Linked DNA regions of Homo sapiens. The protein of the gene in region 1 purifies or fractionates together with the protein of each later gene. This does not show direct contact. Each region holds a gene or a part of one and is shown on either strand. Other genes may lie near its edges. The genes, in order: LMOD3 and PLS1.

The links.
Region 2: the proteins of LMOD3 (region 1) and PLS1 purify together in Homo sapiens (affinity purification with mass spectrometry; one large-scale study listed by BioGRID and IntAct). This does not show direct contact.

Annotation. Positions count from the first base shown.
Region 1 is NC_000003.12:69,119,771-69,124,022, reverse strand, and holds the start of LMOD3 (leiomodin-3), read left to right. Parts: upstream 1-1,427; 5' UTR 1,428-1,636; coding exon 1,637-1,930; intron 1,931-3,962; coding exon 3,963-4,252. UniProt on the Homo sapiens protein: Essential for the organization of sarcomeric actin thin filaments in skeletal muscle. Increases the rate of actin polymerization.
Region 2 is NC_000003.12:142,599,186-142,603,006, forward strand, and holds part of PLS1 (plastin-1), read left to right. Parts: intron 1-1,342; exon of another isoform or gene 1,343-1,561; intron 1,562-3,821. UniProt on the Homo sapiens protein: Actin-bundling protein. In the inner ear, it is required for stereocilia formation. Mediates liquid packing of actin filaments that is necessary for stereocilia to grow to their proper dimensions.

The DNA.
Region 1 (4,252 bases):
GCAATAAAAAATTATTTAGTAGTAGAGTACACAGTTGCCTAGAAAAAAAGAATCCTGACTTTCTCAGTCAAAAAAACAGATGAGAAAAAATGATAGAGTTTGTATGCCTAAAAGAAAGGACTGGAATGAAAAAACTGAAATGTTAATAGTGGTAGCTTCACAGTGAGGTAAGGGGAAGATTTTGTTCTGTGCCTTTCTATGTTATCCTAACTCTTGTACAATGAATGTATATTTCGGAATAAGAATATATTTACGAGCCAGGCACGGTGGCTCACGCCTGTAATCCCAGAACTTTGGGACACCGAGGCAGGTGGATTGCTTGAACTCAGAAATTCGAGACCAGCCTGAGCAATATGGCAAAACCCTGTCTCTACAAAAAATACAATTAGCTGGGTGTAGTGGTGCATGCCTGTGGTCCCAGCTTGATCCTGGGAGGCAGAGGTTGCAGTGAGCTGAGATCGCAGCACTGCCCTCCAGCCTGGGTGACAGAGCCAGACCCTGTCTTAAATATATATATAATAAAACTTGTATATTATATATTATTGTACCCTTTGTCACACAAATAATGGCATGTAAAACACACTGTTTTGTACTTTGCTATATTGTGTAACCTTGTACACACGTTGTTTCACCCATGTAGGGGTATATCTGTAGGATACACTTCTCAAAGTGGAATTGCTGGGTCAAAGGAAATGGGCATTTGTAATTTGGACAAATGTTGCATATTGCCCCTTCAGGGTTTGAAAACAAAATCTTCTCATAGTTTCTTTTAGTATATTAGTGGTCTGGATTTCTTTTTTAACACTTCACTTTAGAGCCATTTTCATTGATATTGGCTTAATGGATACTTAATAAGAAAAGCAAATAATTTAAAATATTAAACTCACTTATAGTGGAAATCCAAGTGCTGGTTGTCCCCATCTGTTAGATCACAGGATCTAGATGCAAACAGGACATCTTGCAAAGGTTCGGCTTACACAGAGGATGAGTGACATAGCAAGACCTCTGTTCCACTGTGCACCACTTTATTTGCTTCCACACTCACCTTGTAGGGAAGAGGCAGACCCTAAGAGCTTGATTTCTACCTTCAAGTGAATTCTTTACTTCAGAAACAACTCAGGTTGCTGGTTGGATTTCCCTTCTGAAATATTGTAAGTTGCTTTAATATTTAAATAAAAACAAGTGGAATCCCCTGGAGTATTGGGGTATGTATGTATGAGCTGCATGAATTTGTGTATGGCAATATGATGGCATATAGGAAGATAATTAATTTTATTCCTGCAGAGATTCTGTAGTCTCTGCTAGTCTCTGGCAAACATAGCAGCTGTACTGAAATGTCAGATGGATTTGCGCAGCTGACTCAAGTTGCCAAAAAGAGAGCAGCATAGTTGTTCCATAAATTGACCCCATCCAGCCAAGCCCTGCTTAATATAGATCCGGCAAGAGCTTAGCTGTGATCACTCCTAGCTGCTCAGCAAACCACTGAGGTTCCTGGGAAAAAAAAAAAAATATCTCAAGGGTGTGTTAACTTGGGACACTCGTTAACTGGGGGACCTTCTTGAGGCTTTTTTCCTTCTTTTTAAAAATCATCTTTGATTATTCTTCTTTTCTAGTAAAATAATATTTAGAAAAAATAATGTCAGAGCACAGCAGAAATTCAGATCAAGAAGAACTTCTCGATGAGGAGATTAATGAAGATGAAATCTTGGCCAACTTGTCTGCTGAAGAACTGAAAGAACTGCAGTCGGAAATGGAAGTCATGGCCCCTGACCCCAGCCTTCCCGTGGGAATGATTCAGAAAGATCAAACTGACAAGCCACCGACAGGAAACTTCAATCATAAATCTCTTGTTGATTATATGTATTGGGAAAAGGCATCCAGGCGCATGCTGGAAGAGGAACGAGTTCCTGTCACCTTTGTGAAATCCGAGGTAACCAGAGATTTGTGTACAACCGAGAAATGGCTGCCTGGGATGGGCTGTTAGGTCTCTCTGTTGTAACTGTGATTTCTCAAGACTCCAGGGTTTGGTTCTGCTTTGTTTTTGCCATATCTAGATTAAACCATAATATTTAATCCTACTCCGACTGGAACTTTCTGAAACACATTTATATTTACAAGGGGAAAATTGGGTAATTTCTTGCAAATGTCTCTTTTTAAAAATTGCTGTCGGGTTTGCTGTGTCAGAAAGCCTGTGTTCTATTGCCACGATACTTAGTGACTTAACTCATAACCCAGAGGCAGTTGTCCTTACCTCTCTCTTTCTTTTTTATTGCAGGCCCCTTTGAGAAAGTAATGACAGCTCTGTAGCCTCTGTCTCTCTGGCACATCCAAACATACGCAGTGTTTCGCACACAGTGTCAAACATTTCAGTCCTCCTGAAGTCTGGCCACACAACCTGCAATTAAACCAAGTCGAATAACCAGAAAATGTCTTATATTATTACTATGTATTGGCTGTCAGTGATGACATTTAGAAATCGATGGCTATTAAGTGGTTTTGAAGCTAGTTCTTCACTTTCTAAAACCTGAAAGCTAGAATTGTTAACTCTGCAAACTTACTGTGCATGAGCATAATTTTTTTTTTTATGTTCCACTTGAAAATGACTTAACAAAAAGAGGACAGAGATGCCTCCTAGGTAAAGTCTCTTTAGGTTATGCCTGTTTACAAAGATACATCTTGTTAAATTACTCTGAAGCTGGCTGTAATTAAGGAAAGTTGTCAATTGGTTTTACAGTCAGTAGAGTTTAAACATGTGCTAAGATTAAGAAAAGAAACAGCTGGATTGATCAGGTTAGAGTTCAAGGTACAATTTGCAGATTTTTTACAACTGGAGATCAATGGATGAAAAGCCAATTCTATGTGAATGCCAGTTTCAGGGGGTAAAAACGAGTACTTGCAACATGTTTTTCCTTCCTCTGGTATAACTTGAACAGCTTGATGGTTGGCTCCCCCTTCTGGTCAAGGTGAGAAATGCAGTGGTGAAGACTTCAGGTGGTTAAGGTGACTTGTCACTGTCTCTTCTGACCTATGTTATGAGCATGAAATTTTTGCTCAAATGAACCTGTGTCTCAACTTGCTATACTGGCTTTCAAAATGATATCTATGAGGCCCACAAGTTGCATAGAAAAGCATTATAATTGATGTGCAAGAATCTAATACATATTATTGATAAAAGGCCCATTTTATTTCCCAGACTAAGCAATTATTTCTCAATGTCTGCATAATCCTGTTTCATCTTACAGCTGGCCCTGGTTCCTAGGCACTTTCTTTCACAAGAAACTGGGATAGTAAACTTGTCCTAGACAGAGTATCATGGCAGTTGTCAAAGAACTGAAAAAATAGAATCAAAATTGAGGTTTTAAATATATATATGTATATATATATATTCAAAATCAAAATTGAGGTTTTTAAATATATATATATTCCAAAATGTCAAACGTATCTAATTTCCCATACATTATGTTATGTTCTCAGAGGAAGTTCATGTACATTCTATACTAGATTAGTAGACATTGTAGGGATGTTAATTTTAGGGCAATAATTTCCTTATTCTAATATATTTATAGTATCACATTTATAATATATTGGAATAATAAGGAAATTATTGCCCTAACTCAGGACTGTTGGGTACTAGATGCCTATTTGGTAGATACAAAATCAAAGCTTCAGTGTATCGATGAACAATTCTATGAGGTTTTCAAAACAATTTTTAACTGCTTCTGAAATTAAACACCATTAAAAAGTACAGAATATTAAAATTAATAAGGTTTCCTTTTAATACTCATTTTAATTTATGGGATAGAATAACCACCCATTTTTAGCAATCAGCTATTTAAATAAGGATTATTTAAAATAGCAACCAGCTCTTTTAAATAAGCATTTTTATTATCTCCACTAGCTGATGCTCCACTTCATATTTCTTCTCTGCTATGTATTCTAACCCTCATAAACCTCTCTTGTAGGAAAAGACTCAAGAAGAGCATGAAGAAATAGAAAAACGTAATAAAAATATGGCCCAGTATTTAAAAGAAAAGCTCAATAATGAAATAGTTGCAAATAAAAGAGAATCAAAGGGCAGCAGCAATATCCAAGAAACAGATGAAGAAGATGAAGAAGAAGAAGATGATGATGATGACGACGAAGGAGAAGATGATGGTGAAGAGAGTGAAGAAACGAACAGAGAAGAGGAAGGCAAAGCAAAGGAACAAATTAGAAATTGTGAGAACAACTGCCAGCAGGTAACTGACAAAGC
Region 2 (3,821 bases), about 73 Mb from region 1:
AAATAAATAAATAAATAAATAAATAAATAAAAAGTGCATTTTGCCATGGGGAGGGTGGGCATTTAGGATCTTAGAGCTATATGGTAGCGCTTTATCCAGACTATCCCCTAATTGTATAGAGGAGGGACTCAGATATTCTTTTTTTTTTTTTTTTTTTTTTTTGAGATGGAGTCTCGCTCTGTCGCCCAGGCTGGAGTGCAGTGGCGCAATCTCGGCTCACTGCAAGCTCCGCTTCCCAGGTTCACGCCATTCTCCTGCCTCAGCCTCCCGAGTAGCTGGGACTACAGGCGCCCGCCACCGCGCCCGGCTAATTTTTTGTATTTTTAGTAGAGACGGGGTTTCACCTTGTTAGCCAGGATGGTCTCGATCTCCTGACCTCATGATCCACCCGCCTCGGCCTCCCAAAGTGCTGGGATTACAGGCGTGAGCCACCGCGCCCGGCCAGATATTCTTAACTAAGCTAGTTAGTGGGATAGCCAGAAGCTCTGTTCAAATTTCCTCATTACTAGACCCAAGCTCTTTTCATTAACTATTACTTTTTGAGGTTGTTGGCCCCACGATTATTTTTATTTATTTATTTATTTTTTGAGACAGGGTCCCACTCTGTCACCCAGGCTGGAGTGCAGTGGCACGATCACTGCTCACTGCAGCCTTGACCTCCCCGGGCTCAAGTGATCCTTCCCACCTCAGCCTCCCAAGTAGCTGTGGCCACAGGCACGTGCCACCATGCGTGGCTAATTTTGTATTTTTTTGTGTTTAGAGATGGGGTCTCACTATTTTTCCCAGGCTGGTCTTGAATTCTTTGGCCTGCCTCAGCCTCCCAATGTGTTAGGATTACAGGCCTGAGCCACCATGCTCAGCCTCCCAAGATTAATTTGAGTTGGTAGCAAGACACTCCAGTTCAAGATGTTCTGTGGACTGAAAGCCCTCAGAAACCAATCTAAGGGGGAAATTTGGTGGTCGATGAGAGAATGTGTGTGTCATCGGAAGAGGTGAAACACAAGGCTGCTGGCCAGTTCAAGGTTGAGTGTACACAGTGAGGAGGGAGTGAGGCTGGGGTCCTAGGAATCTTCACACTGGGGAGTTGAAGTCTGGAAAGGTCATGGTAGCTTAGCTTGTCAGAGGCAGACACAAATGGGTTGGCCCAAAGTCCTTGGGACTGAGAGTCTATTTCCTAGATATATTGTACACTACCAGGAGGTGGTGAGCAATGGCTTTGGAGAGGGTAGGCCAGGTGCAGTGAGGGTAGGCCAGGAGGGTGGCACCAAAGGGTGGTGTTTATGACCCAAGAACATGGGGGTGAGGTAAGGCTGAGAGAGAGACAATTGTGATCAGATTCTACCTGGAAAAACAAGACAGAAAGCAGTGCTGCTGAATCCAAACTTCCAGTTCAAGAGGTGGTTTGGAATATTTGTTTACTTGGAACAGATGTTGCATTTTGCAAATCATAGCCATTTTGCAAATCAAAACACAGCCTTTCCATTGAGCTGCACACAGCGATGAGGGAGCTGTTGGATGCCACATCCTTGCCATTGACTTGCACACTGTGGTTGACCACCATCTTCATATTTCCACAGGCAACGATGGTCCATTAAAAATGTCAAGGAGAGAGAGAGCAGTTGAGAGGAGAGACAGAACAAATGAGCTTGAGAAATGGCTAGCAGTGGGGAAGGGAAGGGTTGGCCTGGTTTCATATATATATATATATATATATATATATATATATATATATTTTTTTTTTTTTTTTTTTTTTTTTGAGACGGAGTCTCGCTCTGTGGCCCAGGCGGGAGTGCAGTGGCGCAATCTCGGCTCACTGCAAGCTCCGCCTCCCGGGTTCACGCCATTCTCCTGCCTCAGCCTCCCGAGTAGCTGGGACTACAGGCACCCGCCACCACGCCCGGCTAATTTTTTTTTTATTTTTAGTAGAGACGGGGTTTCACTGTGTTAGCCAGGATGGTCTCGATCTCCTGACCTCGTGATCCGCCCGCCTTGGCCTCCCAAAGTGCTGGGATTACAAGCATGAGCCACCGCGCCCGGCCTATATTTTTTATATATATATGTTTTTCATGATGACGTTAGTGAAAATTGATTAGGCAGATGCAAAATCAGGTAGTATGTTGAAGTTAATGTCTCATACACTTAAATGTCCAAATATTAAATCCTAGAATTTACCATGGCCCTTTGTAAAATGACAAATATCTTTCTTAAAATAATAATAGTAATATTAGTAACTAGTATTACAGAATATCTTCCATGAACCAGGCACTATACTAAATACAAGTAATATATCATTTCATCTTTATAAACCATCCTGTGAGATAGGTGCAACAATTACTCATTTATTTTTAATTTTTATTTTTTAAAAACAGGGTTTCAGTCTGTCACCCAATCTGGAGTGGAATGGCACAGTCATAACTCACTGTAACCTTGAACTCCTGGGCTCAAGCAGTCCTCCCGCCTCAGCCTCCCAGGTGTGGACCAACGTGCCCGGCTTATTAAAAAAAATTTTTTTATAGTGATAAGGTCTTGCTATGTTGTCTAGGCTGATCTCAAACTTTTAGCCTCAAGCAATCCTCCCACCTCAGCTTCCCGAAGCCCTGAGATTACAGGCATGAACCACTGCACCTGACCTACCCTCATTTTCTAGATGAGAAAATTGAGGCTTAGAGAGATAGATAAAAGCATTTATCTGAGGTCATATAGTTTACAAGTGGCTGAGCTGAGATTTGACCCCAGGCCTATCTGACTTTATACACTGAGCGCTCAAATAACTTAATCAAATATCTTAACAAAAATGCAAAGCTCTTTCTGAGGTAACTCTAACAGATGCTTAGAATAGCCACAGGTTTCAGCTGGTGGAACCACCAACATTCTTTGAGCCACATTTAAAAAAACCAAAACAACAGTGGTAAATCGTTCCGGTTTTTTTTTTTTTTCATTCCACTTAGTCTTTATCTCCTTTTCTCTTGAAGCATTCCTAGAGAAAGGGACAGCAGCTTTTTCTCTGGGTACACCATTAAAGCCACTTCTGATCTGCTCCCACCCTCTTTTGGGGTGGAGCTGTGATTGGGGAGTGAGTTGGTGGTCATCCAGGGCGTGTCTGTGGAGTTGGCAATGGGAAACTGGGAAGCTCACCTTGTGTAGGAGCCTAAGAACTCTGGAGTGACCAGGTATAAGGATTTCTTTCCCTGGGGTGTCAGGATCCACTGCTGGAAGCTCCTGGAATATCTATGGATCATGACTCTAATCTTAGGCCTTTGAACTATGGCCATAAACCCCCAGGAAGAATCCAGGTGTGAACACATTCTCCCCCAATTTTTAAGATTGGGGAGTTGTGAAGTCCCTGTGGACTAATTGGAGGTGGGTGTGGATACCTCAGGAAAGGCCCCAGGTCAAAGACAAATAATTTAAAGGCCCCCCCCACCCCATAGGCCCCAGCTTTGACCTGTGAGAAAATGTGCTCCTCTCCCTCCTCTTGATGAACCTAATTACATAGAGAACTTACTCTCCTGGGAGTCTCAAAATGGAACTCAGCTGAGAGCGTGCTTCCCTCCCTTGCTGCCTGAGCTCTCTTTCCATTTCCTGGTTCTGCTTTACCTTCCCCTGAGTGGTTCTGTGTTCCCAGGATATGAAAGGCAGGGCCGCAGCTTCTGGCTTCACCGGGCTAATTTTTGTATTTTTAGTAGAGTCGGGGTTTCACCATGTTGGCCAGGCTGGTCGCCAACTCCTGACCTCAAGTGACTCGCCCGCCTCAGCCTCCCAAAGTGTTGAGGCTGAGGCCACCTCTGGCCCTCATTCTCTCAACATTCAAAAGCTTGTCA